2 separate regions of the Homo sapiens genome follow, and region 1 is linked to region 2. The links come from fine-mapping of genetic effects on gene expression. A gene starts in region 2. The other region holds a variant in brackets. All regions are shown on one strand. Distances are from middle to middle.

What was found.
Region 1: its variant is fine-mapped to the expression of CFAP144 in unexposed skin (GTEx, PIP above 0.99).

What each region holds. Positions count from the first base shown.
Region 1 is chr1:43,113,876-43,130,558 of GRCh38, forward strand. No RefSeq gene overlaps it. Among named protein-coding and RNA genes, the nearest start is that of CFAP144, 26 kb to the right of the region's middle. RefSeq lists enhancers at 5,696-6,337, 6,338-6,978, 7,527-8,048. The variant G/T (reference allele first, on the strand shown) is at 8,049.
Region 2 is chr1:43,139,003-43,155,685 of GRCh38, forward strand. CFAP144 (cilia and flagella associated protein 144) reads left to right here and starts at 8,902. Exons shown (of 4, transcript NM_001101376.3): 1 at 8,902-9,082; 2 at 11,759-11,818; 3 at 13,826-13,929. The coding sequence starts at 8,950. RefSeq lists an enhancer at 13,928-14,891.

The DNA.
Region 1 (16,683 bases), 25 kb before region 2:
CCCAAAGTGCTGGGATTACAGGTGTGAGCCACCACGTCCAGCCCTCCTTTGCTCATTTTTAAATTGGAGTTTTTGCTGTTGTTGTAGAAATTCTTTATACATTCTGGATATTAACCCCTTTTCAGATATATGATTTGCGAATATATTCACTCATTCAATTGGTTACCCTTTCACTCTGTTTCTTGTGACTTTTGAGGCACAGGAATTTTAAATTTTGATGTAGTCCAAGTGATCTATATTTTATTTTGTTGCCTGTGCTTTTGGTGTAATATTCAAGAAATCACTGCCAAATCCAATGTCATGAAGCTTCCCCTTATGTTTTCTTCTACACATTTTATAGTTTTAGGTCTTACGTTTAGGTCTGTGATCCATTTTGGGTTACTTTTTGTATGTGGTTTAAGGTCCAACTTCATTCTTTTGCATGTAGATATCCAGTTTTCACACCACCATTTGCAGAAAAGACTGTTCTTTTCCTATTTAATGGTACTGACACCCTTGTCAAACATCATTTGACCACATAGAGGTTTATTTTTGGGCTCTCCAGTCTATTCCATTGGTCTTTATGTTTATCTTTATGCCAGTACCACACTGTTTTTATTACTGTGGCTTTATAGTAAGTTTTGAAATCAAGAGACCTCTGACTTTGTTTTTCTTTTTCTTTTTTATTATACTTTAAGTTTTAGGGTACATGTGCACATTGTGCAGGTTAGTTACGTATGTATACATGTGCCATGCTGGTGTGCTGCACCCACTAACTCGTCATCTAGCATTAGGTATATCTTCCAATGCTATCCCTCCCCCTCCCCCACCCCACAACAGTCCCCAGAGTGTGATATTCCCCTTCCTGTGTCCATGTGATCTCATTGTTCAATTCCCACCTATGAGTGAGAATATGCGGTGTTTGGTTTTTTGTTCTTGCGATAGTTTACTGAGAATGATGATTTCCAATTTCATCCATGTCCCTACAAAGGACATGAACTCATCATTTTTTATGGCTGCATAGTATTCCATGGTGTATATGTGCCACATTTTCTTAATCCAGTCTATCATTGTTGGACATTTGGGTTGGTTCCAAGTCTTTGCTATTGTGAATAATGCCACAATAAACATACGTGTGCATGTGCCTTTATAGCAGCATGATTTATAGTCCTTTGGGTATATACCCAGTAATGGGATGGCTGGGTCAAATGGTGTTTCTAGTTCTAGATCACTGACTTTCACAATGGTTGAACTAGTTTACAGTCCCACCAACAGTGTAAAAGTGTTCCTATTTCTCCACATCCTCTCCAGCACCTGTTATTTCCTGACTTTTTAATGACTGCCATTCTAACTGGTGTGAGATGGTATCTCATTGTGGTTTTGATTTGCATTTCTCTGATGGCCAGTGAGGATGAGCATTTTTTCATGTGTTTTTTGGATGCATAAATGTCTTCTTTTGAGAAGTGTCTGTTCATGTCCTTCACCCACTTTTTGATGGGGTTGTTTGTTTTTTTCTTGTAAATTTGTTTGAGTTCATTGTAGATTCTGGATATTAGCCCTTTGTCAGATGAGTAGGTTGTGAAAATTTTCTCCCATTTTTTAGGTTGCCTGTTCACTCTGATGGTAGTTTCTTTTGCTGTGCAGAAGCTCTTTAGTTTAATTAGATCCCATTTGTCAATTTTGTCTTTTGTTGCCATTGCTTTTGGTGTTTTAGACATGAAGTCCTTGCCCATGCCTATGTCCTGAATGGTAATGCCTCGGTTTTCTTCTGGGGTTTTTATGGTTTTAGGTCTAACGTTTAAGTCTTTAATCCATCTTGAATTGATTTTTGTATAAGGTGTAAGGAAGGGATCCAGTTTCAGCTTTCTACATATGGCTAGCCAGTTTTCCCAGCACCATTTATTAAATAGGGAATCCTTTCCCCATTGCTTGTTTTTTTCAGGTTTGTCAAAGATCAGATAGTTGTAGATATGCGGCGTTGTTTCTGAGGGCTCTGTTCTGTCCCATTGATCTATATCTCTGTTTTGGTACCAGTACCATGCTGTTTTGGTTACTGTAGCCTTGTAGTATAGTTTGAAGTCAGGTAGTGTGATGCCTCCAGCTTTGTTCTTTTGGCTTAGGATTGACTTGGTAATGCGGGCTCTTTTTTGGTTCCATATGAATTTTAAAGTAGTTTTTTCCAATTCTGTGAAGAAAGGCATTGGTAGCTTGATGGGGATGGCATTGAATCTGTAAATTACCTTGGGCAGTATGGCCATTTTCACAATATTGATTCTTCCTACCCATGAGCATGGAATGTTCTTCCATTTGTTTGTATCCTCTTTTATTTCCTTGAGCAGTGGTTTGTAGTTCTCCTTGAAGAGGTCCTTCACATCCCTTGTAAGTTGGATTCCTAGGTATTTTATTCTCTTTGAAGCAATTGTGAATGGGATTTCACTCATGATTTGGCTCTCTGTTTGTCTGTTGTTGTTGTATAAGAATGCTTGTGATTTTTGTATATTGATTTTGTATCCTGAGACTTTGCTGAAGTTGCTTATCAGCTTAAGGAGATTTTGGGCTGAGACAGTGGGGTTTTCTAGATATACAATCATGTCATCTGCAAACAGGGACAATTTGACTTCCTCTTTTCCTAATTGAATACCCTTTATTTCCTTCTCCTGCCTAATTGCCCTGGCCAGAACTTCCAACACTATGTTGAATAGGAGTGGTGAGAGAGGGCATCCCTGTCTTGTGCCAGTTTTCAAAGGGAATGCTTCCAGTTTTTGCCCATTCAGTATGATATTGGCTGTGGGTTTGTCATAGATAGCTCTTATTATTTTGAAATATGTCCCATCAATACCTAATTTATTGAGCGTTTTTAGCATGAAGGGTTGTTGAATTTTGTCAAAGGCTTTTTCTGCATCTATTGAGATAATCATGTGGTTTTTGTCTTTGGCTCTGTTTATATGCTGGATTACACTTATTGATTTGCGTATATTGAACCAGCCTTGCATCCCAGGGATGAAGCCCACTTGATCATGGTGGATAAGCTTTTTGATGTGCTGCTGGATTCGTTTTGCCAGTATTTTATTGAGGATTTTTGCATCAATGTTCATCAAGGATATTGGTCTAAAATTCTCTTTTTTGGTTGTGTCTCTGCCCAGCTTTGGTATCAGAATGATGCTGGCCTCATAAAATGAGTTAGGGAGGATTCCCTCTTTTTCTATTGATTGGAATAGTTTCAGAAGGAATGGTACCAGCTCCTCCTTTTACCTCTGGTAGAATTCGGCTGTGAATCCATCTGGTCCTGGACTCTTTTTGGTTGGTAAGCTATTGATTATTGCCACAATTTCAGATCCTGTTATTGGTCTATTCAGAGATTCAACTTCTTCCTGGTTTAGTCTTGGGAGAGTGTATGTGTTGAGGAATTTATCCATTTCTTCTAGATTTTCTAGTTTATTTGTGTAGAGGTGTTTGTAGTATTCTCTGATGGTAGTTTGTATTTCTGTGGGATCGGTGGTGATATCCCCTTTATCATTTTTTATTGTGTCTATTTGATTCTTCTCTCTTTTTTTCTTTATTAGTCTTGCTAGCGGTCTATCAATTTTGTTGATCCTTTCAAAAAACCAGCTCCTGGATTCATTAATTTTTTGAAGGGTTTTTTGTGTCTCTATTTCCTTCAGTTCTGCTCTGATTTTAGTTAATTCTTGCCTTCTGCTAGCTTTTGAATGTGTTTGCTCTTGCTTTTCTAGTTCTTTTAATTGTGATGTTAGGGTGTCAATTTTGGATCTTTCCTGCTTTCTCTTGTGGGCATTTAGTGCTATAAATTTCCCTCTACACACTGCTTTGAATGCGTCCCAGAGATTCTGGTATGTTGTGTCTTTGTTCTCGTTGGTTTCAAAGAACATCTTTATTTCTGCCTTCATTTCGTTATGTACCCAGTAGTCATTCAGGAGCAGGTTGTTCAGTTTCCATGTAGTTGAGCGGTTTTGAGTGAGATTCTTAATCCTGAGTTCTAGTTTGATTGCACTGTGGTCTGAGAGATAGTTTGTTATAATCTCTGTTCTTTTACGTTTGCTGAGGAGAGCTTTACTTCCAAGTACGTGGTCAATTTTGGAATAGGTGTGGTGTGGTGCTGAGAAGAATGTATATTCTGTTGATTTGGGGTGGAGAGTTCTGTAGATGTCTATTAGGTTCACTTGGTGCAGAGCTGAGTTCAATTCCTGGGTATCCTTGTTGACTTTCTGTCTCGTTGATCTGTCTAATGTTGACAGTGGGGTGTTAAAGTCTCCCATTATTAATGTGTGGGAGTCTAAGTCTCTTTGTATGTCACTCAGGACTTGCTTTATGAATCTGGGTGCTCCTGTATCGGGTGCATATATATTTAGGATAGTTAGCTCTTCTTGTTGAATTGATCCCTTTACCATTATGTAATGGCCTTCTTTGTCTCTTTTGATCTTTGTTGGTTTAAAGTCTGTTTTATCAGAGACTAGGATTGCAACCCCTGCCTTTTTTGTTTTCCATTTGCTTGGTAGGTCTTCCTCCATCCTTTTATTTTGAGCCTATGTGTGTCTCTGCACGTGAGATGGGTTTCCTGAATATAGCACACCGATGGGTCTTGACTCTTTATCCAATTTGCCAGTCTGTGTCTTTTAACTGGAACATTTAGTCCATTTACATTTAAAGTTAATATTGTTATGTGTGAATTTGATCCTGTCATTATGATGTTAGCTGGTGATTTTGCTCGTTAGTTGATGCAGTTTATTCCTAGTCTCGATGGTCTTTACATTTTGGCATGATTTTGCAGCGGCTGGTACCGGTTGTTCCTTTCCATGTTTAGCGCTTCCTTCAGGAGCTCTTTTAGGGCAGGCCTGGTGGTGACAAAATCTCTCAGCATTTGCTTGTCTGTAAAGTATTTTATTTCTCCTTCGCTTATGAAGCTTAGTTTGGCTGGATATGAAATTCTGGGTTGAAAATTCTTTTCTTTAAGAATGTTGAACATTGGCCTCCACTCTCTTCTGGCTTGTAGGGTTTCTGCCGAGAGATCCGCTGTTAGTCTGATGGACTTCCCTTTGAGGGTAACCCGACCTTTCTCTCTGGCTGCCCTTAACATTTTTTCCTTCATTTCAACTTTGGTGAATCTGACAATTATGTGTCTTGGAGTTGCTCTTCTCGAGGAGTATGTTTGTGGCATTCTCTGTATTTCCTGAATCTGAACGTTGGCGTGCCTTGCTAGATTGGGGAAGTTCTCCTGGATAATATCCTGCAGAGTGTTTTCCAACTTGGTTCCATTCTCCCCATCACTTTCAGGTACACCAATCAGATGTAGATTTGGTCTTTTCACATAGTCCCATATTTCTTGGAGGCTTTGCTCATTTCTTTTTCTTTTTTCTCTAAACTTCCCTTCTCACTTCATTTCATTCATTTCATCTTCCATTGCTGATATCCTTTCTTCCAGTTGATCACATCAGCTCCTGAGGCTTCTGCATTCTTCACATAGTTCTCGAGCCTTGGTTTTCAGCTCCATCAGCTCCTTTAAGCACTTCTCTGTATTGGTTATTCTAGGTATACATTCTTCTAAATTTTTTTCAATGTTTTCAACTTCTTTGCCTTTGGTTTGAATGTCCTCCCGTAGCTCAGAGTAATTTGATCATCTGAAGCCTTCTTCTCTCAGCTCTCAAAGTCATTCTCCATCGAGCTTTGTTCCCTTGCTGGTGAGGAACTGCGTTCCTTTGGAGGAGGAGAGGCGCTCTGCGTTTTAGAGTTTCCAGTTTTTCTGTTCTGTTTTTTCCCCATCTTTGTGGTTTTATCAACTTTTGGTCTTTGATGATGGTGATGTACAGATGGGTTTTTGGTGTGGATGTCCTTTCTGTTTGTTAGTTTTCCATCTAACAGACAGGACCCTCAGCTGCAAGTCTGTTGGAATACCCTGCTGTGTGAGGTGTCAGTGTGCCCCTGCTGGGGGGTGCCTCCCAGTTAGGCTGCTCAGGGGTCAGGGGTCAGGGACCCACTTGAGGAGGCAGTCTGCCCGTTCCCAGATCTCCAGCTGCGTGCTGGAAGAACCACTACTCTCTTCAAAGCTGTCAGACAGGGACATTTAAGTCTGCAGAGGTTACTGCTGTCTTTTTGTTTGTCTGTGCCCTGCCCCCAGAGGTGGAGCCTACAGAGGCAGGCAGGCCTCCTTGAGCTGTGGTGGGTTCCACCCAGTTGGAGCTTCCCGGCTGCTTTGTTTACCTAAGCAAGCCTGGGCAATGGCGGGCGCCCCTCCCCCAGCCTCCCTGCCGCCTTGCAGTTTGATCTCAGACTGCTGTGCTAGCAATCAGCGAGACTCCGTGGGCGTAGGACCCTCCGAGCCAGGTGCGGGATATCATCTCGTGGTGCGCCGTTTAAGCCAGTCGGAAAAGCGCAGTATTCGGGTGGGAGTGACCCGATTTTCCAGGTGCGTCCGTCACCCCTTTCTTTGACTCGGAAAGGGAACTCCCTGACCCCTTGCGCTTCCCAAGTGAGGCAGTGCCTTGCCCTGCTTCGGCTCGTGCACGGTGCGCGCACCCACTGACCTGCGCCCACTGTCTGGCACTCCCTAGTGAGATGAACCCGGTACCTCAGATGGAAATGCAGAAATCACCCGTCTTCTGCGTCGCTCACGCTGGGAGCTGTAGATTCGGCCATCTTGGCTCCTCCCCGACTTTGTTTTTCGATTGTTTTGTCCCTTGAGATTTTATCTTAGTTTGACGTGGATTTTTTTTCATAGAATCATTGCCCAGGTAATTTTTTAATTTCTAAAAAGAAATCATTGAGATTTTGATAGACATTATGTCAAATCTGTAGATCCCTTTTGGTAATATTGACTTCTTAACAATATTATATCTTCCAATCTATGAACATGGATTGGAAAGGATATTCTACTTAAGGGTGTCTTCCTTAATTTCTTTCACCAAAATTTGTAGTTTGCAGTGAACAAGTCTTTTGCCTCTAAGGTTATTCCTAAGTATTTTATCCCTTTGATGCTATTGTAAATAAAATTTTGTTCTTAATTTCCTTCTTGGATTGTTTGTTGTTAGTGCATAGAAAGACAACTGATATTTGCATGTTGATTTTATATCTTGTAACTTTGCTAAATTGGTTTATTAGTTTCAACACTGTTTTTGTTGGGATTTTTAGGGTTTTCTACCTATAAGACCAAGTTGTCTGTGAACAGAGATAATTTTACTTCTTCCTTTCCAACTTGGATGCCTTTTATTTCTTTTCCTTGCCTAATTTCTCTGGCTAAGACTTCTAGTACTATGTTGAATAGAGTGATAAAAAGAGACATTCTTGCTTCTAATTTAGAGGGAAAGCTTTCAGTCTTTCACCATTGAGTATGACGTTAGTTGTGGGCTTTTCAAAGATATGCACAGCGGCTTTTAAACGTCTTGATTTTCCTAAGACTTTCACCCCTGCTTCTTCTCAGGGTCTTAGATGTTCCATTGTAATTCTCTGCCTGTAATCTCCCGCTCCAAGTGCCCTTGGGTCTACAGTTCTCCGGCAGTTTTCATGTGCCATGGCACCTGCCACTGCTTTCAGTGGGGTCCAACCTGCTATCCAACTATGCCACCGTTCCCATCTAAGCTGAGTCAGATGAGATAAAAATCAGTTCCTCAGGCAGCCTCCAGACAAGACAGAACAGTGCAAACAAGTCCCAGTCTTTTCCCTCTGAAAGGGGAATTGTGTGACTTCCTCCTGACTGTGTTGCACTGAGGAGAAGGTAGGCAAGGGCTCAAAAAAAAAAAAAAAAAAAAAAAAAAAGCAACACAATTTCCTACTGTGTTAAGTGTTGCTTTGTCTTGATTGGGTGTTTAATTGATTGGTTGCTGCAGATCCTTGACTGGTTTCTACAGCTCCTACAACTGTAAGAGCCGAGATTTTTTTTTTTTAGACAGGGTCTTGCTGTTGTCACCCAGGCTGGAGTGCGGTGGTACAATCTCAGCTCACTGCAACCTCCGCCTCCTGGGTTCAAGCAATTCTCGTGCCTGAGCCTCCCGAGTAGCTGGGACTACAGGCATGTGCCACCACACCCAGCTAATTTTTGTATTTTTAGTAGACACAGGGTT[G/T]TGCCATGTTGGCCAGGCTGGTCTTGAGCTCCTGACCTTGAGTGAGCTGCCTGCCTTGGCCTCCCAGAGTGCTGGGATTACAGGCGTGAGTCGGCGCACCCGGCCTCTGATTTTCAGTAAATACGTTGTCATTTACTTGATGTTTCCATGGGAGAACAGGGACCTGGAGCTTCTGCCATCTTGCTGACATCACCATAACATAACTCTTTAGACTTCCAAGTCTTGTCTTTTTAAAAACGTTCACATTTAGTTCTATGATCCAATTTGAATTGGATTTTTGCATGAATACCTGGTTTTGAATTGTAACTCCACCATGTTATTTCAATGTGGCCTTAACCTCTCTGGGCCTCAGTTCCTTCATCAGTAAGATGAGGGGCAAAATAGCATTGGGAGGATTCTGCATTTACATCTGAAGAACTTAGAAACACAACTGAAAAATACTGTCGTTTTTTTCCTTATCCACACTGGATACATTCCAAGGTCCCCAGTGGATGCCTGAAACCACAGATAGTACCATACCCTATATATACTATGTTTTTTCCTATAGATAGGTACCTATGATAAAGTTTAATTTATAAATTAGGCACAGTAAGAGATTAACAATAGCTAGCAATAAAATAGAACAATTATAAGAATAGACTGTAATAGGCTGGGCGCAGTGGCTTATGCCTGTAATCCCAACACTTTGGGAGGCCGAGGCGGGCAGATCACTTGAGGTCAGGAGTTTGAGACCAGCCTGTCCAACATGGTGAAACCCTGTCTCTACTAAAAATACAAAAATTAGCTGGGTGTGGTGGTGCGCACCTGTAATCCCAGCTACTAAGGACGCTGAGGCAGGAGAATTGCTGGAACCCGGGAGGTGGAGGTTGCAGTGAGCTGAGATCATGCCACTGAACTCCAGCCTAGGAGACAGAGAGAGACAGTCTCAAAAAATATACACACACACACACACACACACACACACACACACATATATATACCATAATAAAAATTATGTGAATGTAGCCCCTTTCTGTCTCAAAATATCTTATTGTGCTGTACTTACCTATTTTCAGACTGCAGTTGATCATGGGTAATTAAAACTATAAAAAGTGAAACCACAGATGAGGGGATACTGTAGTACATTTAATAAATGTTACTTGCCATTAATATTTCTGTAGATTTTTGATCAACTTTTGCTCTGGAAGATCAGAGGGGACTGACCTAATTAGGTCTGATAAAAGGCTTAACTTTATCACTTAGCATTGCTTGAGTATTTTACTGGCCTGGTGGGTGTACTGAGAAAAGCAGGCTTATGTTTCAACAGTGGACTCTATTGTGCGAAATAAATATGAGTCTCCTCCCTCTTTGCTGTTGCCTTATTTGTACTAGCATGCCAGTTTGAATACACAGTGTTCATGTCAATATTTTTGTTGATCAATTTATCAGCTCAATTTATAGAAACTTTCAGAGTCTTCCTTATTGATGTGTTTCCTGGGGCAAGGCCCATTGTTTTGCTTAACATTTCCTAGAACCTAGATGGGCCTCTGTACTCAGTTGCCCCAAGAATTTTGATCAAAACATGGACCAGGCTTTGGTATTAAATTTCCAAAGCCTGGAGGCTGAAAGCAGTTTGGAAAAGAGTTGATTCACTTTAAGCAGTTCTTCCTCGTGGGTGTGTGTGTGTGTGTGTGTGCGTGTTTGATTTTAAAGATTTCTGGAATACTTTCTAAATACAGAAAAATATGCAAATGAATATAACAAAAATATAACAATCATCCTTGTATCCATCATCCAGGTTTAACACCTTTTAACTTTTTGCTATAATTGTATCAATCCATTCTTCCCCAGAAGTAGACACTATTCTGAAATTAGTGTATATTCTTCTGTTGATGTTTATAGTCTTTTATCAAATATGGATTTATTAAAAAATAATATTATATATAGTATTATTTTGTTCTCATATTTTAAATATAAAATAATGTATGTTTTACTTTTTCTGATTTGTTTTTTTCACTCAACATTCTTGTTAATGACTTATCTATGCTGATACATGGATCGTTGTAGTGGGTTCATTGTTAACTGTTGCATAGAATTTCATCCCCTAAATATTCCACAATTTATTTATTCACTCACCTACTGAAGGACACACACACTGTATAGATAGTGTTTAATTTCCATTTACCTTTCTTCTTTAGTTTTATATTTATTTATTACTAATTCATCTTCATACTTTCCCCACTATTGTCTAAGTTTTCTCCCAAATTCAGATACACAAGATTTTCTTAAAACTTCATCTTGTTGAAGATCTCTTTTCTGGAGCCTTCTGAGTTGCTTCAACCTGGTTTGGTTACTTTGTTATCATCCTGAAGTCTCACTTTTCTCTCATATTGGGGATGCCTTCTTGGCTTCTCTCCTGTGCTAGAGTCTCCGTTCCTCTGCCCCTCATCTCTGCACCCATTCAATGGTGCTTCGTGTTTATGCAAGGAGCTGTGGTAGAGGGATTAGAAGCATAAGCTTCAGAAGGAGACAGATCTAGGTTGAATCTTTGTTTATCACAATTATGAGCAAATGTATTATCTTCACTTAGCTTCAATTTCTACATTTATAAGGTGGACATAAAACACCCATCTCACAGAGTTGCCATGAAGATTAAGTGAAATGCTATTTCAGCTGATATTTGTGCTACACATATTTTCCCCCAGACTACACCGTAACTTTTCAATTTGTTTGTTGTACCTTTAGATACATAGACACATTTTATTTGTAGTCAAATGTATTATCCTACATAATTTACATTTTATATGTTCTGTATCCTTCCCTACCCCAAGCTCATAAACAGATCATTATTATAATTTCTTTTAAAAGTTTAAAGTTTTGCTTTCACATCAAACTGATTATCTACCTGAAATGGATCTGTATATATGGTGTGATATATAAGGCTCTGTTTTTTTAAATATGGGTAACCAATTGTCCTAAGATCAAATATTGAATAGACCATTTTTTCTACTTTGATTTGTAGGGCTTACTTTTGTCATATTACTGTCCCATGTATGAAGGTCTGTTTCTGGTCTCTTTATTCTGTTTCAGTGGTCAAAAACCACACAATTTTAATCACTATAATTTAAAAATAAACACTAATATCTTTAAAACACTAATATCTTTCTGTTCTTTCATAAAATTGATAAACTCTTATGTAAACTTACATTGTACTTTGTATTTTCTCTGGTGTTTCTATATACACAACCCAATTATTTATGAATGCTAGCAACTTTGTTTACTCATCAATTCTTAAACTCTATGTTTGTTTTTCTTGTCTTACTGCACTAGTCAGGACATCTAGTGCAATGTGAAGAGAAGTGGTAATTATGGGCATCTTTGTCTTGTTTCTGACTTAAATTATATGTAGTATTTTACCATGAAGGTTGATGTTTGCTATAGATTTTTAGAAGATATACTTTTTAGGTTTAAGAAAGTTGCTGCTGGTTTTTTGTTGCTGTTGTTGTTGGTTTTTTCTTTTTTCTTTTTTTTTTTTTTTTTGAGATGGGTCTTGCTCTGTTGCCCAGGCTGGAATGCAGTGGCACAGTCATAGCTCACTGCAGCCTAGAACTCCTGGGCTCAAGTGATCTTCCCTCCTCAGCTGCCTGGGCTTCCTAAAGCACTGGGATTACAGATGTGAGCCACTGCACCTGGCCAAGAAAGCTTCTTTTAATCCTTATTTGCTAAAAGATTTTTTTTTTTGTACATATGAGATATGGTTTGCTAATGTATCGAGGCTCTTTACATCTCTCTTCGTAAATGAAACTGGTCTATGTATTTTCTTTCTTCAGCTTTTTACTGGCTTTGGTATCAAATTAGATTGATTACCGTAAATGAATTTGAGAGCATTTCCCGCCCAGTGTCCCCCTTTTTGGATTATTTGGAACAACTTGTGTAAAATTAGAATCATATGCCACTTGAATATTTGACGGAACTTGCCTTTAAAATTTCCAAGGTCCTTTTTTTAGTGGGGAGGGGGGCAGATTATTACAAACTATTAATTCTATCTATTTAAAGGTTATAGATCAATGTAGGTTTTAAGACTGTTTTTGGTAAATTATATCCTTACATAAGATTGTCCATTTCATCTAAATTATATTTTTATATAAAAGTGTCCTTTTCATCAGTTTAAAAGTTATCTATTTTCAAATTTATTAGCATAAAGCTATTCATAGTATTTTTCTTGTGATTTTACCAAGCCTTATCTGTGACCATACTTTGTTATTTATTTTCCTGGGACATGGTATAGTTCATCTCCAGTCACCTTCCTCTGGACTTACAGGTTATTCTTGTCCAGAATTTTAGTGCTATTTTAAAAATTTTAACACAAAATTTGGTCATAACTATTATTGTTGGCTGGGTGCAGTGGCTCACACCTGTAATCCCAACACTTTGGTAGGCTGAGACAGGAGGATTGCTTGAGCCCAGGAGTTCCAGACCAGCCTGGGCAACATAGGGAGACCCCATCTCTACAAAAAAATTTAAAAATTAGCTGGGCATGGTGGTATGTGCCTATAGTCCCAGCTACTCAGGAGGCTGAGGTGGGAGGATCACTTGTGCCCAGGAGGCTGAGGCTGCAGTGAGCCATGATTGTGCCATTGCACTCCAAACTGGGTGACAGAGGGGGACTGTCTCAAACAATAATTATTATTATTACTTTACATACTTGATATTTATTTGTCATTTTTGTTGCCTGTAAATGTCTTTGTTTCACCCTTATTAGTGAAAGATCATTTTGCTGGATCTTGAACTCTAGGCTGACTATTGTTTTCTCTCAGCACTTTGCAGGTATTATTCCATTGTATTCTGACCTGTATTGCTGCTATGGAGTAGCCAGCTATCAATTTAACTGGCAGCCTTGCATAGGTAATCTCTCTTTTCTGGCTGCTTTTAAGACCTTCTGTTTGTCTTTTGTATTCAGTGTTACCACAACACCAGGGGCTTGGTGTGGGTCCTGCTGCTTGCCCCAGAGAAAGCCCATCACTGAGACCAGGATTATTGCCAAGGAAGAAGGCTTTAGGCTTTAATTGGGTGCTGTAGCCAAGGAGATGGGAGATCAGTCTCAAATCTGTCTCCCCTGATGACTGGAATTAGAGGTTTATATGGCAGGGAAGAAATATAACAATGTATAAGAAAACAGAAAATGTACCCCTCCCAAGGAACTAGGGAGGGGTAAGGAAGCAATAGTGATGAATGAGGTGTCTGGCATTTCATTGTCTGGATGCTGTGACCTGGTGAGTTTCAGCTCTTTGATACTTTTTTTGAGTGGCCTGAGGGTGTTGCTAAGAAGGAACTCAGATAAAACAAATGCAAGTTTCAAGCTTTAAGGGCCAGGCTTGGTGGCTCACGCCTGTAATCCCAGCACTTTGGGCAGCTGAGGTGGTTGGATCACGAGGTCAGGAGATCGAGACCATCCTGGCTCACACGGTGAAACCCCATCTCTACTAAAAATACAAAAAAAAAATTAGCTGGGCGTGGCGGTGGGTGCCTGTAGTCCCAGCTACTCGGGAGGCTGAGGCAGGAGAATGGTGTGAACCCAGGAGGTGGAGCTTTCAGTGAGCTGAGATCATGCTACTGCACTCTAGCCTGGGCGATACAGTGAGACTCCGCCTCAAAAAAAAAAAGAAAAAAGAAATTGACCAGAAGGGTCCATTTCTATGTTTATCCAAAAACAAAAAGACAACAAAAAAAGTGTCTATGGGACTATTGGGTTGATTTCATCCAGCAGTTGACCATGTTGTATCCAGATGTGAATTTCTTTTTACTTATCCAGCTTGAGAATTTGTCAGACTTCTTTAATCTGTTGTTTTGTCTTTCATCAATTTGGGGGAATTTCTTCAAGTATTGTCTTTCTCCTATCTACTCTTTCCTGCTACATCAAATTTATACAACATGTTCTCTTCTATCTTATGTGGATGTGGCTTTTAAGTTCTTTTTCATGTTGTTCATCTCTTTGTCTTGAAGTAATTTCTTCAGTTTTTAATTCCAATTTACTAATTACCTTTTCTTTCTTTCTTTCTTTCTTTTTCTTTTTTTTTTTGAGATGGAGGTCTTACTTTGTTGCCCAGGCTAGAGTGCAGTGGTGCAATCTCGGGTCACTGCAGCCTCAACCACCCGGGTTCAAGCAATCCTCCTGCCTCAGCCCCCCAATTAGTTGGGACTACAGGTGCGTGCCACCAGGACTGGCTAATTTTTGTACATTTGTAGACACAGGGTTTTGCCATGTTGCCAAGGCTGGTCTCAAACTCCTGAGCTTAAGCAATCCACCTGCCTTGACCTCCCAAAATGTTAGGATTACAAGCATGATTTATAATCCTTTGGGTGTATACCCAGTAATGGGATTGCTGGGTCAAATGGTATTTCTAGTTCTAGATCCTTGAGGAATTGCCACACTGTCTTCCACAATGGTTGAACTAATTTACAGTCCCACCAACAGTGTAAAGGCTTTCCTATTTCTCCACATCCTCTCCAGCATCTGTTGTTTCCTGACTATTTAATGATTGCCATTCTAACTGGCAGGAGATGGTATCTCATTGTGGTTTTGATTTGCATTTCTGTAATGACCATTCTTTTTTTTTTCTTTTTTTTTTTTTGTTGAGACGGAGTCTCCCTCTGTCGCCCAGGCTGGAGTGCAGTGGCACAATCTCGGCTCACTGCAAGCTCCGCCTCCCAGGTTCACGCCATTCTTCTGCCTCAGCCTCCTGAGTAGCTGGGACTACAGGCACCCGCCACCACGCCCGGCTAAGTTTTTGTATTTTTGGTAGAGATGGAGTTGCACCGTTTTAGCCAGGCTGGTCTCAATCTCCTGACCTCGTGATACTCCTGTCTCAGCCTCCCAAAGTGCTGGGATTACAGGTGTGAACCACCGTGCCTGGCCTCTAATGACCATTCTTGATGGGACTTTAAATTGAATAGTGCCCTTTTGGAAGCATCCATTAAAAGTTAGTGCATATATATATACACACACACACACACACACACACACACATATATATACACACACATATATATACACACATATATATATGTTTGGCCTAGCAATAAAAATTTGTATTATTGTTATGTTATGATGTCATTATATCCTCTACCTTAGAAAAAAGACATTATATCCTCTACCTTAGAAAAAATCATATTTCTTTATATTCACACACGTAATGTTAAAGCATATTTTTTTAAAGTGTGGAAGCAGACTTAACCTCTGGTATGAGGACTGGTGCTGAAGAGAGGATCGAAGAGAACCTTTACTTATTTGTATTTGAACGTTTATAATGAGCATATTAATGGCTACTCGTGTAATTAGAAAAAAAATAAAAGAAATCACAAATAATAGCAATTAAAACTTGAGAGGTTTCTGATGCAGCCAGGATGTACTAGCCCTTGCACTGTCACTTAAGAACCAGCAAAGCCAACTTTGAAGGCTCCTAATAGCACTGATCTTCAGTGACTGGTTTGCATGTCAAGGATAGCTGAAGGTGGATTAAAAACTTCTCAGGCAGACACATAATCACCTGAATTCAGGGACCTGCCTTAGAATTGTGTATGACACTTCGCAGTCATAATCACAGGCCCCCGGCTTTGAGCTGCTGAGAATCTCGCACAAGCTCTGCATTAGGCTGACACTTCCCAGGAGGATATAAGAACTGCCAATTATACAGAGAGCTACGCTCTGTAATATCTTGACAGTCTCCACTCTCTCTCTTTCCTCCTCCTGCTATGAGGCTCCAAGTTTATTCCCCAGTTACTGGGGGCCACTCCTGGGTCCCTCTGCCTCGGAAGTCTTCCCTCCTGGCTGTGGCCCAATTAAGCCACAGTTGAGTTGCTCAGAAGTGAGAATTCCTGGGAGGCTTGTTAAGTTCAGTGCTTCAGGAAATGGAAGGAACATCATTAAGAACTTCAGCTTAATAGGCAGCTGGGCCAACACCAGCTGCAAAGCAGAAAAAGTGTAAGTGACTCAGTGTCCCTCAGAGGCATCAAAAAAAACTTGTTTTAACTTTTACCTAATTCTATCCCAAGTGTGTACACTAGCTACGAAGCACATACCCAAGACACCTTCACTTTCCCCACCACTATCACTCTGTTATTTTCATCATGTATCATTACAACCTCATCACCCATCAGTATTCTCATCATCGCTTTGATTCACCGTCATCCCAGAACTATCATCCTTTTCCTATTACACTATCATTCTCAGTATTATCACCAACTCATCATTTAACCATTATTATCACCATCAGTATTATAATCACCCCCATTATCATTGCAAACACCATCATTCAGCTGCACCATTTCACCACTCCCATGGCCACAACCATAATATACGTCTGTAGTTCATGAGAACAGAAAAACATCCTGAAGATTCTAAGAAAAAGCCCTTATTTGAAAGGCAGACAACAAAAGTATTTTTAAATAAGTTTTTCTCTTATTTCAATCAGGTGCAAGAATAAGAAGGTAATAGACTGAGATAAGAAATTAAATGAAGAAATACAATAAAATAAAATTTGACACAATGGTCAAAATATAACCTAAACTGGAGAGAATAAACAGAAAAATGGACCTTGCATAAACATTAAAATCTTCTCAGAATGCAAGAGAAAAGAAGGAAAATTCTGATAATTAC
Region 2 (16,683 bases):
CAGGTGCCAACGGGACATTGTGAGAAGTGACCTAGAAAGCAAGAGGTGAGCCCTCTGTCACACCTGCATAAGGGCCACTTGAGGGTTCCTTGGTCAAGCAGTAATGCCAGTGCCTGGGAAGGCACCCGTTACTTAGCAGACCGTGAAAGGGAGTCTCCCTTTCCTTGGAGGAGTCAGGGAACACTCTGCTCCACCACCTTCTTGTGGGAGGCTGGATATTATCCAGGCCTGCCCGCAGTCATCCGGAGGCCTAAACCCCTGCCTGTGGTGCTGTGCTTCAGTAGTCATGCTCCTTGTCCACTTTCATGTTCCTCCCGCACTCCTGGTTCCTCTTTGAAGTTCTTAGTAGATAGTGGTAGAAGAAATAGTGAAAGTCTTAAAATCTTTGATCTTTCTTATAAATGCATAGAAGAAAATGCTGACATATACTGCCTTCCCTCTCTGCTTCGGCTACCTAAGAGCAAAGGGCCCCCTGTCCCATGATCACGTGACTTGCTTGACCTTATCAATCACCTGGACGACTCACCTGCCTTACCCTGCCTCCTTGTCTTGTATGCAATAAATATCAGCACACCCAGCTATTTGGGGCCACTACCGGTCTCCACGTCTTGGTGGTAGTGGTCCCCCGGGCCCAGCTGTTTTCTCTTTATCTCTTTGTCTTGTGTCTTTATTTCTTACAATCTCTCGTCTCCGCACACGGGGAGAACACCCTCAAAGCCCCGTAGGGCTGGACCCTACACCATAGATTAGTTTTGCTTAGCTTTAAACGCTTTATAAATGGAATTACACAGGATGCATTATTGTGCCTGCATTCATTCAACACTATGTATGCCAGATTTACCCATATTATTGTATGTAGCTGTATTGTTCATACATTTGTATTGCTGTATAATATTCCAGTGTATGAATATGCCATAATTTATTTATCCATTACACTGTCATTGAATATTGGGTTGTTTCCAGTTTGGGTTTATTACAAATAATGCTGCCATGAACCTCTTTCATATCTTTAATTATACTTGTGTAACCATTTATTTAATACATATAGATAGGCAGGAAGTTACTGGATTATACAATACATGCATACTCTTCTTTAGTACATAATGTCAAACATTTTCCAAAGTGGTTCTACCAATCTACATACCCAGCATCAGGGTATAAGAGCTCCAGTTGCTCCATAATCTTGCCAGTATTTGGTATAGACCATCTTTTTAATTTTAGCCATTCTGATGGGTCTGTAGTATTAACTCATTGTGGTTTTAATGTGTATTTTCCTGAACATCTATGAGGTTGAGCACCTTTTTATATATGATTGGTCATTTTGCTCTCCTCTTTCATGAAGTACCTTTTCAAGTCTCTTACTATTTTTCTACTGGAGTGTGTATTTTTTTATTTATTTATAGGAGTTCTTTTATATATTACTGATAAGATCCCTTTTTATATTTGTGGATTTTCTTTTTACATTGTATGGTGTGGCTCTATCATAATTTACCTATTTTTATTTATAATTATTTAGATTGCTTTCAATGTTTTTATTCCAACAACTTCTATGAATTGAGGATTGTGGGTATTGTTTAGGATAGAGTATTTAGTATCAATCTCTTAGGTTTTTTTCAACAGCATTCAGCACCATATGAAAGGCAAATGGCTGGGATCAGCCAGGTTGAGTTTTTCTTTCCAGGAAAGTGAGATTAAAAAATATAATACCACAAGATAATTGATAATATTGGTTTTCAAAAAGTCATTGAAATTATAAAATTGATAAGGTCAATCACGTGACTTGCTTGACCTTATCAATCACCTGGGCTACTCACCCTCCTTACCCTACCCCTTGTCTTGCATGCAATAAATATCAGCGCGCCTAGATATTCCAGGCTGCTACCAGAATAGCGCACCCAGCTATTCAGGGCCACTGTTGACTCTGAACTATGTAAGGAGGGAAGTAAAGACAGCATGGGAATTAGAGTTACTAGATATAGAGAAAGAAAGGATGGTGGGCTGGAGGCCAAGTGAATTGGGAGGAATAGAGTGACTACACTGTAAGGACAGGAAGTCATGGTCAGAGAACAGTATATCTGAATATGTGGTTTCAGAAGTGGGACAATTCTTCAGTAATGAGAAGGACCAGATATGCCCGTAAGTGGCTGAAGTAGAAGGCAAGTGGTGAATTTTGGTGAAAATTTGCAAACCATGCATCTGACAAGGGGTTATATCCAAAATATACAAGGAAATCAAACAACTCAATAGCAACAAAACAAAACAAACACCAAATAATTTAAAAGTGGGCAAAAGACCAAAATAGACATTTCTCAAAAGAACACATATATATGGCCAACAGGTATATGAAAAAAATGTTCAACATCACTAATCATCACGGAAATGCGAATCAAAACTACAGTGTGATATCACCTCACCCCAAATAGAATGAGTATTATCAAAAAGGCGAAAATGACAAATGCTTGTGTGGATATGGAGAAAACGGAACCCTTACGCACTGTTTTGGTGGGAGTGTAAACTAGTACAACCATTATGGAAGACAGTATAGAGTTTCCACAAATGAATTAAAAGTAGAAGTATCATATGATTCAGAAATCCCACTACTGGGTACTGATCCAAAGAAAATCAATATGTCAAAGGGAAATCTGCACTCCCATGTTTCCTGGAGCCTTATTCACAATAGCCAAGCTATGAAATTATCCTAAAAGTCCATCAATGCATGAATGAATAAAGAAAAGGTAGTACATATGCACAATAGAATAAAATTTAGTCATAAAAAAAGCATGACACCTTGTTATTTGTAGCAATGTAGATGAACCTATAGGGCATTACGTTAAGTGAACTTAGAGGACATCACATTAAGTGAAAAAGCCAGGAACAGAAAGACAAATACCACATGATCTCACTCATTTGTGGGCTCTAAAAAAAGTCAATCTCATAAAAGTACAGAACAGAATAGTGGTTGCTAGAGGAGAAATGGGGAGAGATTGGTGAAAGAGTACAAAATTACAGATAGGAGAAATAAGTTGTGGTGTTCTATTTCACGTTAGAGGGACTATTGTATATTTCAAGACACCTAAAAGAGTCTTTTCGATATTTGCACCAAGAAGAAATAAGTGAAGTGATGTATTTGTTACATATACTGATTTGATCATTACACAATGTACACAAGTATTAAAATATCACACTGTACCCCATAAATATGTGCAATTCTTATGTGTCAAAAATCAAACTTTTACAAAATACAGAATGTGTTATAAGTAAAACACACACACACACACACACACACACACACACACACACACACACACACAGAGAGGCCAGAGAATTGAATCAGGCCATCTAAATGAACACTGAAGTCACTCAGTGTGATGAACTCAAGAATAGGACTTTGAGACAATTGTAACCATGTTAATAGGAAAAGAGAGAAAGAGAGTGTCCAGGAGATGTTAGGGGACAGTGCAGGGAAATGGTGATGTATAGCACAAGCTTTAAGGAGCAAGAGGTTTTCTTTTTTTTTCTTTAAACATCCCTCCACTGGGAGTTCAGACCCACTGCCCATCTATCTCCCTAGCACCTGCTGCTCTGTGTTCCCCCACAGGCCCCTCAGGTCACTCAGCATCCTCAGCATTGGGCGGGTCACTGCTTGGCTCAGCAGAGACATGAGGAAGGGTCCTGAGCTTTATAACCCTTGGGCACTGCAGTGGGGAAGTGGTCATGGGCTGGGGCACCATTGCTGGTTTTCAGTGTTCGTGCTGAATTTATCAAAGTTTAACAACATACCTTATACCAGCAATTCAAGTCTATTTATATGTAAATATGCATATTATATTTATTCATCATATATAGTTGCATCATTTATACAAATATCAATACAACTGACTCTAAAATATTATATATTTAATAAATAAAGTCTATATTACAAATACATATGTACATATACACATAATGTGTGTAATTTTTTTTTAACTTTTAGGCTCTGGAGTGCATGTGCAGGTTTGTTATATAGGTAAACTGCATGTCACAGGGGTTTAGTGTACTGATTATTTGCCACCCAGCTAATAAGTATAGTACACCATAGGTAGTTTTTCAATCCTCTCTCTCCTCTCACGACCGTCAAGTACACATGTAGGAGCAAGAGATTTTTAGTAAGAAGAGAGGAATAATGGTTTGAAAGGAATCAAAAGGAGCAAAGAGAACCTATACACCACATTCCCACACTGAAGTACTTAGAGTTTCAGAGAATAAGTAGAGTCTCTACCTGAAATACACAGGAAGCAATGTCCTCAAGGGAAATCCAAATTACATTTAAAGCCAGGAGAAGCAAGGAACTGTCCGTAAAGAAGCAGTCTAAGGAAATAGGGAAGTTTACTAATCATGCAGCTGAACTTCCATAGAGTACAACTGAAAGTAAGGGAGGAAAAGGGTGTTGGGTCAAGAAAGAACAATCAGAATATTATGGTGATAAAAATACCAGAGAGAATAGGTGAGCAAAGGGACTTATGATTTGGATGGTGATCAAAGAAACCAGGAATGGTCAGCAGAGGGGGTTGCTTCATCAGACTAAAGAAAGGGGGAGGGTGCACTCTCCTTAGTTATCTGACATGGAGACAGGCATCTCTGGTAGTGAGCAAGGAAGTCCAAATCTAGTCGTTAGGCACCCAGGAGTGGGCAGTCATCCTGCCAGTCTCAGCCCTACGTTTATGGTTCCAGTTAAGAGTAAGTCATCAAACCAAGAGAACACAGGAACCAAGATGGTACGCTCCAAAAAGTTCAGTTCTGCTCTGAAGCGCCCCCTACAGGATCCTGTTCAGAGACGCAGGAGGAGGCAAAGCTGCTGGTCTGCGCTTTGCGCCATTCTGTGCTCCCTCCTACCTGCCCTCTTTTGGCCCAAGTTCTAGTCCCATCTGCTTTGTCACCCCCTGCCCACCTAAGGGACTTCATTCTCTGGTCTTCACCGTCCTCATGGTAAAATGGACGTGACATCTTTAATCACACATATCTATCCAGTGATGTAAATGCAGTGAAAAGGGCTTTGAACAGTGTTGTCAGGGAAGGAGACTGAGGCACTAATTTCTTCCCATTTTCCCAATTCCTGCTTCAGCACCGCTCACCTAGGCTCCAGCCCTCTAAATCTATCCTAGCCCTTTGGTCGATCTTTGCCTACTGAGGGCAAAATTACATAGTATCCCAAAAACAAGGATTAATACTACAGCCCCATTTCTTCTCTTTGCCATTTCCCATGACAACTCTTAAACCTAGAAACTGGTGCCATTTCCCTGATTGGTGGGACCTGCTCACTAGACCAAAAGGGATGTGTATGTACATTTCATAATGGGCATTCAGTTAGGGGATGATGTGAGGGCTGTGTGTGAGATAAATCCTGGAGTTGGTCTGGCCACATCCCAATGACTCATTTGGACTCCTTTGGACAAGTAACTAGAGCTCCCATTTGAAAGAATGACAAGCAAGCTACCTCAAATTTCTCTTTCTCAACCCATGACTTCACCTTTTCTGTTCCTTAATGCTCTCATCATCCAGCCCTCCTTTCTGCTGTTTTTCCTCAGTTTTCAAGCCTGCACCCTAGTCTTCTGTGCCATCCCACTTTTTTGGGGTTCTGCCCTATCTGTTACCCCTCTCCGAATAATGTCAGCCCCGCCCACTACCCTACTGTAAGGATCTGCCCAGCTCTTCCTCTGTGGGTTTTAAACCGTGCATCTGCTGCCACCACGTTCATCAGGGTCCCAATTTCCATTACACCCCTGCCTTTCCCCCGCTCCTCCTCCTAGCCCTTGTTTCTAATCCCCTGTACTCTAGCTCCCACTCCCAATCGAGCCACCCCCAACCAACCATGACAATTCACAGCTCTCATCCTGGAGAGATGGTTTCCCTCATGCTGGGACAGTTCTGGGGCAGTTCAGAATTGCCAGGACTGTGGATTCCCAGCAGCTTGGCCTGGTGGACACACGGAATGCAAGACAACAGCAAACCCACCTTCAGCCTTGGTAAGTGACAGGACCCCTTTTCCATGACCAGATCCTGGTTACCTTGATACTATTTCTATTTTGTCTCCATTCCCGTCTGGGCAATCCTCTTCAGATGCCAGAGATTTCCTTTTTTTTGACAGTTTGCTCCTTTCCTCTCATGCCTGGTCAGCCAGCCTGCATGAGGTTCTCTACGTTTGAGACTGGCTTCTCCACGGAACTTGGTCTGTAGCCACAGAGCAAACTGCAGGGCCATTGACAGAGAATGAAGAGGAGAGTGAAGAGTGGAACACATCTAATGTGTTCTCTGGAGGGTAAGTCTTGTCGATCTGCCCTGCATTCAAGTGAGTGCAACCCCTGAGAATCACACATAGGGCACAAGGTCCCTGCTGTAGATAGATGGGGACTTAGGTTTGTTTCCTTTGGTCTGGTTCCTCCCAGACTCCATTTTCTTCATCCTAGGATTCCAGGACCATCCCAAGGACGTTCTGCCCTTGAGAAATGTCTCCTGCAAAAAGGGGAGGGTCCCTCCATTGTGCTCTCATCAAAGCTCTGAGGGTGAGCCTCTTGCTCAGGCAGCACTTCTACTTCAGAATGGGAAAGGTAGCAGTCTAGAAGGCAAGAATGTGTCCAGATCCTGACCAGATGATAGCATCACATGAACACATGACATTAAGAAGTGCTCTCCTCAAACTGAGGTCTAGATTCAATATAATCTCAATAAAAATCCCAAAAGATATTTTTAGGGAACTTGACAAGCTCATTATAATTTATATGGACATACAAAGGGCCAAGAAGCGGCAAGACTGTCTTGAGAAGACATTCTTCCCTACCAGATATTAGAATGTGTTACATAAATTATGGTAATTAAGATAGTGTAGTGCTGTTGCAAGCTTAGACAAATAGACCAATGGCACAGAATAGAGTCCAGAAATGGACTTGCACAAATGGGGACACTTTTTTTATGGACACAGTAGCATAGCAGACCAGTGAGGAAGGACTATCTCTTCAATAATTTGCTGGTGGGTCAACTGGATACTCCTTTGGAAAGAAAAAATTAAGCTGGATTCCTACCTCACACTGCACTCGAAAACCAATTTCAGGTGGAATACAGATCTCACTGAGAAAGGGTAAAACAACAAATCCTCTTAAATATTAATAGTTCTGCCCACAGATGGCCATGGAGCTCTTGAGATGTGTTATGAAGTGTAAAATCTGCACTGGATTTTAAACATTAGTAGGACAAAACAATGTAAAATATCTCAATAATTTTTATATTCAAACGTTGAATCATTGACAAATTGGATATACTGAGTTAAATATCACATTATTAAAATTAGTTTTATCTAATTCTTGCTCTCTTAATGCAGATACTAGAATGTTTTAAACTACATGAGTGGCTCAGCTCATACTTTTATTGAACAGCACTGCTCTAAAAAGTAACATAAAAGTAACCTCAGGTCATCAAATTAGAAAAAGATGTCTTAAATGAAAATTAAGAAGCAATAATCATAAAGGAAAAGACTAATATATTTGACTACGTTTAACTTTTGGTGTCCAGAAGACACCATTAAGAGACTAAAATGGCAAGCCACACAGAGGGAAAATACATTTGCAGCATGTACAGCCCTCAAAATAATATATTAAGAACTCCAACAAATTGATAAACAATCCAATTAAAAATTTTGTTCAACACTGTGTCCCAGACTAAACCCATTCTGCAATTCACATTGTGTCCTGAGCGAATGAATGGATGGATGAATGAATGAAGTACTGAGTGGGGAAGAGCACAGTCTTCAGACAGTATTTAGGTGCTTACTAAAAATAGGGGTGGCTTCTTTCTTTATGCTAGACCTACTTTTTATTTATTTTTTATTTTTTAGAAGGAGTCTCGCTCTGTCCCCCAGGCTGGAGTGCAGTGGCGCAATCTTGGCTCACTGCAACCTCCGCCTCCCGGGTTCAAGCGATTCTCCTGCCTCAGCCTCCCGAGTAGCTGGGATTACAGGCATATGCCATCACGCCTGGCTAATTTTGTATTTTTGGTAGAGATGGGGTTTCACCATGTTGGTCAAGCTGGTCTCGAACTCCTGACCTCAGGTGATCCACCTGCCTCAGCCTCCCAAAGTGCTGGGATTACAGGCGTGAGCCACCGTGCTCGGCGATTCTTTTAAAATAAACTACATTATTTAAGGTATCTAGCAGACTCAAATTCATAGAAACAAAAAGTGAAATGCCAGGGGCTGGAGAGAAGGGAAAAGGGAAACTTGTTGTTTAATGGGTGTGAAAAAGTTCTGGAGATTGGTTTCACATAGTTTGAATATACTTAATACTACTGTACTGTAATACTTAAAAATGGCTAAGATGGTAAAATTATATTACGTGCATTTTAAACACAAACATTAAAAATAAACTATAAAGTCAACAAGTTCCTTAATTAGGAAAGGTTTATTCTGTCAATATTATCACATTGGTAATCTTGGTCACACTGGCCAGAACGTTTTCTCAGAGAGGAAACCTCCGGTTTTTTTGTGAGGTTTTGATTCTGGGCATCTGCTTTAAGGTGGGAGAGGTTTCTGACTCCTTCCAAAAGCTTTTTTAGGAAATGATTGGCCAAGGTGAGGTCCAATCATCTGTCCCTTACCTCCTGGGTCTGCCCCTTGCCGGGAAGCCCTTTCCTGGCGGTATCCAGGGGACCTTCTAGTAACCAGCCGGGCCTGAGGAGCTGGGGCAAGTGAGTACAGTGCCAGAATAGGGCGGGGCGCGAAATAAGATCCCGACCGGCGGGCGCGGGGCGGGGCGATGCAGGCAGGGTAAGGGGCTGGCAGAGTGAGACCCGCCCCGACCGGGCAGCACTACCCGAGCGCTGTTGCCTGGAGACCACGGGACGCCGTTGCCTGGAGACAGCGGGGACGCGTTGCCTGGAGACTGTGGAAGGCCCAGGCAAGAGGGCGCGTGGCAGCCCAAGGCCATGGCGGGACACCCAAAAGAGAAGGTGATTCCAGATGAGGTCCATCAGAACCAGATCTTGCGGGAACTGTACCTCAAGGAGCTACGAACCCAGAAACTCTACACGCAGTATCACGTGAATCCCCTCCGCAAGAGTGAGAGGCACGGCGGGGTGGGGGAAGGGCGAGAGCGGGAGGGCGCCGGGGAAGGAGGAGCCCTCCGGGTTGCGGGGTGGGAACGCGGTCCCAGCAAAAACTCTTTCCCCAGCACCCGCCCCCTTTCCTAGATTTCAGGAACCATGACTTTGGAGAGGCCACATCATATCAGATGTATTCGCTGTATTAAAGTTCATGCGCAACACGATTAAATCTTTTCGTTGTAGAAAAAAAAAAGTTGTAGGGCTTTTTATTATTTTACTTTTGAAATAATTATATTTTGCAGGCTGTTTGTGTTTTGTTTTTGTTTGTATTTTGGGTTGTTTTTAACAAGTGAAAGGTTTTTCTTCAGGCTTCTGATATTGCCCTTCGGAAAGTTCTGGGGTGCCCCCTGATAAAACATCCCTACCCTCCACTCTTGTCACTGAGCACTCTCCTTGGGCAGTTTGTTCTGTCCTGTCACACCAGCTTCCCCTGAATGCCACTGGGCCTGAAATGGAGCTTCAGATCCACACGCCCAACCACCTCACAGCTCCCCTCCCTGGACAACCCACAGGCACCTCAGACCCAGCAGGAGGAAAGCCAGGCTCATTCCCACCTTCCCCACTCTCTGCTGCTCCAGAATACCCTGTCTCTGCAAAAGGCCCCGGATGATTCACTCTCATGATCAGAATCATTCACTCTCATCATCTAATGATCTCATGATCATTAGAAGCCTCGGAGTCCTCCTCAAGGTCTCTCTCCCTCCACACACTTAAAAAAAGGCACAAGTCCTGTTTATTAACATTCCTCTCCCCTGACCCACTTGTTCCTGCTTCAGTGAAAGACACCATCATGCATATGGATTCCTCTCTGCCTCTGCTCAGGTACTTTCATGCTCTAAGTAGCACCTCAAACAGCCTCTGCCTGCATCCTCACTCCTGAAGCCTCTGCAGGGCCCTAGTCCTTGCCGCCTGGATTGGTCTGATGGGCTCCCAACTCCTTATTCTCTTTCCCTCCAAGCTGGCCCCTCCGACCAAACCCCTACACCTTTGCTAGCTTAGCACTATGCTAGGAGGACAATTAGATCACATCAATCCCACCTAAAATCCTTCTCATAGCCTCTGAGGTAAAGTTTAAATCAATCACGACATAAGGCGCATTGGATCTGGCTCTGGTTCCTGCCAGCTTCATGCCATACTCCTCTCCCCCACTTTACCCTGCTCCTTTAAGAAATACTTTGGTGCCTACTCTGCACCAGCCATTGCTGACGAATCCCACACACACTCCTTTCCCCCCTGCCATTTCTAAATACATGGATTTCCTAAATGCATCATGTCATTTCCCACTTTACCTGCATAAACATTGTTGCTTCTTCCTGAATGCCTCTCCCAACTCTGTGCCTAATATGTAAAGTCCACTTTGTTGCCTGGCTCTATAGAGAAAATGTACTGTCTTCACTTTCCTTCTAACTAACTTGGTTTTCTTCTGGAGTCCCCAACCACTAGTTTCAGGAAAGCAAATTAGTGTCCAAAGCCGTTCAAACTCGGTCCATTCCAAATAATGGAAATAATCTCTTCAGGCAACCTTCATGCTCTCTAGGGAAAATGCTGCCTCCCAGCTCATGTCCCTTGAGCATGTGAGCCATTGGAATAAAGTGAGAAAATATTACAACTTGTATTGATTACTTTTATTTATAAAGATAGAAATTTTATTTGCTAATATACTGATAATAGTCCATAAAAACTATATAATTATACATATTTTAAGGGCGCATGCTCTAAAGTTCTTTTACTGATAGGAGTTTGAGACAAGCAGCTTGGAGACCACTGGTTTCTACTGGTGTCTGCTCATTTCCCACTACTCTCCATCCAGCTCACTCCACTGGAGCCACTCTGGCTCTCTTGACGTTTCTCAAACTCCCCAGGCTCACGCTCATATGCTTCCCACACACACAGCACATTCCCTCACTTCATTCAAAACTCTGCTCATATGTATCTCCCTAGAGATACATCACCCACACCCCAGCCCCAACGCCAACTCTCCATCCACGTAACCTGCTTTACTGTTCTCTATCACACTTACATTTGCCGGGTGATATATGTATGTTTATTGCCTGTCACCACAAATAGAGTAAAAGCTCAGGGGACACAAGAGCCAGCTCTGTCTTGTTTACAGCCTGTTCTTCAGTGCACAGTAATTATGAGCTGAGTGGATGAATGTGGGTGCTGCTCCTCTGTTACCATGTGCCCTCCTGGGCATAGATCACTGCCTGGCAAACCTCTTTGGCCTTCCCCATAGGCCAGCACTGTCCAAGAGAATTCATCAGTGATGAAAATGTTCTCTGTCTTGGCTGTAGTCAAAACTGTAGCCATTAACCGCCTGCAGCTATTGAGCACTTGAAGTGTGACTAACGTGGCTAAGGAACTGAAGTGTTCATTGTAATTAATTTTAGTTATTCAAATTCAAGGAGCCACATGTGGCTGATGACCACCATTCTGGGCAGTGCCACTCTAGATTGTGAGGTTCTTGAGGGCCTTATCCAATCGTGCATTATCCTAGCACCCAGGATAATACCTGGCATGTACCAGATACTCAGTGAGTGCCAAATGGGTGCCCTGTTTAAGGTGGACCTTAGAGAGGGCAGGGAACTCATGTTTTAATCTGAACTTGTGAAGCTGTTTTCTTTTTTTCTAGTTCATACAGTCACCAGGAAGCCCATGTCTTGGCATGATAACCTGGAGGAACCTGCAGATGGTAAGTCCTGGGCTTTGAAATGCCATTGAGATAGAGCCCAGAGAGGCAGGCTGGCTGGAGAGACCTCTCAGGGTCGTGATATCTTGGAGCAAGCATCAGAGTCCTCTGCTTTGATCCTGGAAATGGGACTCATACTAACCAAGCTCAAAAAAGACGGATACTCAGACAGTCTGTGGTAGATAGAATAAAAAAAATAAAAATTTTTTTAAATAAAATTTTTAAAAGATGGACATACTCAATTATAACTGTCAAGCCAACTAACGTTCCTATTGACTTAACATTGCCTTCGTTCATTCATCAAACATGTAGATGTTATAAGCACAAGTTCTGAAGCTGTACTAACTCAGTTCAAATCCTGGTTCTGCTACTCATTAACTGTAACATTGGGCAGGTTTTTTACCTCTTTTAGCCTATTTCTCAGGATTGATGTGAGGATTAAACAAAGCAATACCAGTGCATAGAACAGTAGCTGGTACATGGTCCTCAGGAAATATTAGTCCCATGATTATTTTCATTATTAGGTAATCTCTATGGTGGGGCTGGGTGGAGGGATCTCATAGCATAATGAAGAAGAAGAGAAGTAGACTTGGAAATAAGTAGACAAGTAAAGAGGGACCATGACTGATGTGAGAACAGCATAGGAAACAGGTGCCCCCATCAGGCAGTGGAGTTCTGGGAAGACCTCTTGGAGGAGGCGACCACAGGGTGAGGTGGAGAAGATTGTGGAAGGACATTCCGAGTTCTATAGAAAGTTACAGAAATGAGAAACATGACTACAAGTAGTTTGGCATGGCCACAACATACAGGTGGAGAAAGGGCCCTATTTGGGAGTGAGAGAGGAGAGATATTTGGTGGAAAACCTGATCCCTCTTGGAAAGCTTTCCTTCTTCCCCTCTACCTTCCATGAGCAAAATTTGGTGAAGGACAGATGACCGCGGCTGGGATGGGAAGTGGGGGAGCAGAGGCTCTCAGAGCATTACGAAGGAGGCAGATAAGTCAGTAGACTAATAGAGAGGGCATCATCACAGGCAATAAGGTGTTATCTGTAGTGCACTCTCCTGACTAGGGTAAAGGATGCAAGCTGGGAACCTGTAGCAATAAGGAATAGAACAGGAAATGAGGGTCCTGAAAGCCAGGCAGGAGTTAGCTGCTCGCTCTCTTATATGAAGGATGTGCCAGCCCAGTGTCAGTCCCTTGAATCACCTTCCTTCATTTCATTCCCAGCCATCTTGCTGAGATAGACATTTTCCTCCCATTTCACAGATGAGTAAAGTGGCCCAGAGAAGTGATGCCACCCAACAAGCCGGTAGTAGCACTGACTCCAAAGCCCAGGTTCATTCCATTGTCCGCCTGCGTCTCTCCGGTGGAGACTCGATAGGGCAGAACTATGGAGCTGCAAATCCATCTGTTGTCGGCAGCCATACTTATTTCAATACACAAAGATTTGACCTCACTTCTTACAACCTTGCTCCTCACTCTCTGTTGTGCTACACTGGCCAAACTCGCTCATGCCTCAGGACCTTTGCTCTTGCTGCCTGTGGTGTGCTCTTCCTCTGCCTCTTCCCAGGGCTGGCTCCTGCTTGGCAACCAGAGAGGCCTTCTCTCGCCACCCCATCTACAGCAGCTGCCCTTGCCTGCACATGACCCTTCACCTATTCCTTTCTTCACAGTGTGTATCCCTGTCTGCCACCATCACGTCATTTTGTAAACCTGAATACTGTGTCCTCTGCCTCATCTAGAGTATGAGCTCTAGGAGAGCAGGGACCATGCTGTCACTCAGCACTCTATGCCCAGCGCCCGGAAGCATGTCTGGCACAGAGTTTGAGCTCACCACATATTTGTTGAAAGATGAGTGGAGAGACCAGACACCCTGGTCTTGAGGCTGAGGCAAACCTCCAAGGCACAGATGCTCTGCCTGAAAGGAACAATGTGGACGCAGGAAAGGGCACAGGACCAACCTCTGGTCCCAAAGCCTGACTCCTTCATAACTCATACCTCGTCTCCCAGCCAGGTTTCTGAATCTCATTCACCATGCTGCCCAGGGACCAAGGAAGAAGTACCCAGAGACACAGACTGAAAACCAGGAAGTTGGATGGGACTTAGAGCCCTTGGTAAGCGTGGCTCCTTCCTCAGGAAATACGAGGAAACACAGCAGCAATGTAAGTGGTGACCGTAGAATAGAGCAGGGGGCCAGACATGCCTGGGCTTGAACCTGGCTACCTCTTACCAGCTGGATAAGTTACTAAGCTCTCTTATGACTCAGTTTAATTGTTGTAAAATGGAGCTAATACAGTACCTATCTCATAAGCTTGTTATGAGGATGAAACGAGGTGATATTTGTGCAGTACCTGGAACAGTGCCTGGCACATGGTAAACACTGTGTGTTTAAATAAAGGTACTGACAACAGATACCTGAGTCAGCTCCATCAGCTATCAGCAAGGTGGTCTTGGGTGTACCACTCAATATCTCTGAGTTCGGCTTCCTTATCCATAAAAAATGGACATGTGGCTGAGCGTAGTGGCTCACACCTGGCATCCCAGCACTTTGGGAAGCCAAGGCAGGCGGATCACCTGAGGTCAAGAGTTTGAGACCAGCCTGGCCAACATAGTGAAATCCCATCTGTACTAAAAATACAAAAATTAGCTGGGCATGGTGTCGCACGCTTATAGTCCAGCTACTGGGGAGGCTGAGGCAGGAAAATCACTTGAACCCAGGAGGCGGAGGTTGCAGTGGGCCGAGATCACGCCATTGCACTCCAGCTTGGGTGACAGAGTGAGACTCTGTCTTAAAAAAAATATTAATTTTAAAAATATATAAATAAATAACATTTTTTAAAATTAAAAAAATAAAAATTTAAAAAATTAAAACAAAAAAGCATAAAAAATGGACGTGTGAGTAAGGGTCCTCTCCTTGTTTGATTGGAAGGGCACAATTAGCCACTTTAGCACACAATCACCCCAAGGAATACAGTGCTTCCTTTTTTAAGGAAGAAATGTGCAATATGGAATAGACAAGTCAAAGAAATTTCTGCCACACGAGTCTTTAAATCTGCTTATGTCTTTGGTCATGCAGAAGGTTTTCATTTTTAAGTCATCAAATATGCCACCAATTCTCATTATGGTTTCTGGGTTTTGTGCCTTGCTTAGGAAAACCTTCAACACCTACATTACCAAGCAACTATTCTATATTTTTCTCTAACTTTTTTTTCTTACTTCTTCTTCTCTCTTTATATATGTGTGTGTATATATATATATATATATATATATATATATATATATACTCTCTTTTTATATATATAAAAATATATTCTCCCTTTTTATATATATATTCTCTCTTTTTATATTCTTTTTATTTATATATGTAAATATATATAAATAAAATTATATATAAATTATTATATAAATTTTTATATAAAAATTATATAAAATATTAAATAAAATTTTATATAAAATTATATAAAATAAAAATATATAAAATAAAATTATATATAAATAAAAATTATTTATATATATCCCCTCTTTTTATATATATACATACAAAATATGTACATATATATGTACATATACACACACATATATGTATACATATATACGCACATATACACACACATATATGTATACATATATACGCACCTACAAGGACGGACTTGGTACAAAGAGACAGGTATGGTTAGAGAGCTGGAGAAGATAACTACTCAAAGAGAAAGAGGAGGTGGGGAGGTAACATCGTGAATAAGAGAAAAGTGTTAAAATATGTATTCAATGACAGTTATTGAATATAAATATGAATAATGGGTCAATATTCAATGACTGTTAAAAACCAGAAGGAATGGTACTGGAAGTGCTAGTGGAAAAAAATAAATTTAAAATTTAAAAACCAGAAAGAAGACTTTTCCAAGTGGGGAAACTACTGTGAAGGGCATAGGCACCACTATGAGGTTTTGCAGTGAGGGAGGGAAAGAGCCTGGCCTCGACTCTGATTACAGCATGGGCAAGTGCGACTGTGTAGCCAAGGAACGAGGTGGGGGTAAGTGACGGAAAAATACTAGGAGGAAACATCAGGGATAAGGGCAGATTCTGGCTAATTTCCACCTAATAGGGTGCTTGCTGAAGGCAGGCTAGCAGGATCAGACATCACTTGGAGAGTGGTGGAGGATGGGGAACCCAATCAGATATCAAGGGTGATCAGATATTAAAGGTAGGGGGTTCTGGTTAAATCAGCTTAGCAGGATTTTTGCTAGAATTGGACAATGTAGAGGAAATGGAAATCCCAAAATCAGACCTAGTTGAAAAGTAATTCAGGGTTCCTGAGTAGAGTTCATTCAAGGAAAGAATCTTTGCCGGGGAGAAGAAAGGTTGTGAAGGATGGGGTGTTTGTGTGAAGATAGAAATCAGCCAAGATAGATCATGAAGCAACTTAGAAGAATAGTACAATGCACAAGTAAATTAATTCACCATTCTTCATTTTGTTAAAGAGTAAAGACCTGGCTCACACAAGTACAAAGTGTGCATGTGGAGATGTTGCATCTTTGACCTTCCAGGACATCTCGTGCAGGCTTACGATGACAGGAAGGACAAGTGTGGCCTGCCCTGCTCAGACCTTCGTAGGCTCTGCAGATCACAGAGTGCATGTGTCTCCAGATCAGTGAGCACTCTGGAGTTGCAGAGGGTCTGCAAATATTCCATGCTGTTCATCATATAAACCTGGGGACAATGCCATCACAAGAGCACTGCTAGCATAGTAAGAAAGTATACCCCAAAAACCATGAGATGCAGGTGTTGTGTAACCAGAAGAGGTAATTAAGTTGGAGCTTCAGAATGAAGTAGCTGGGCCAGAAGAGGCTTGATCAGCTGCAACTTGAAGC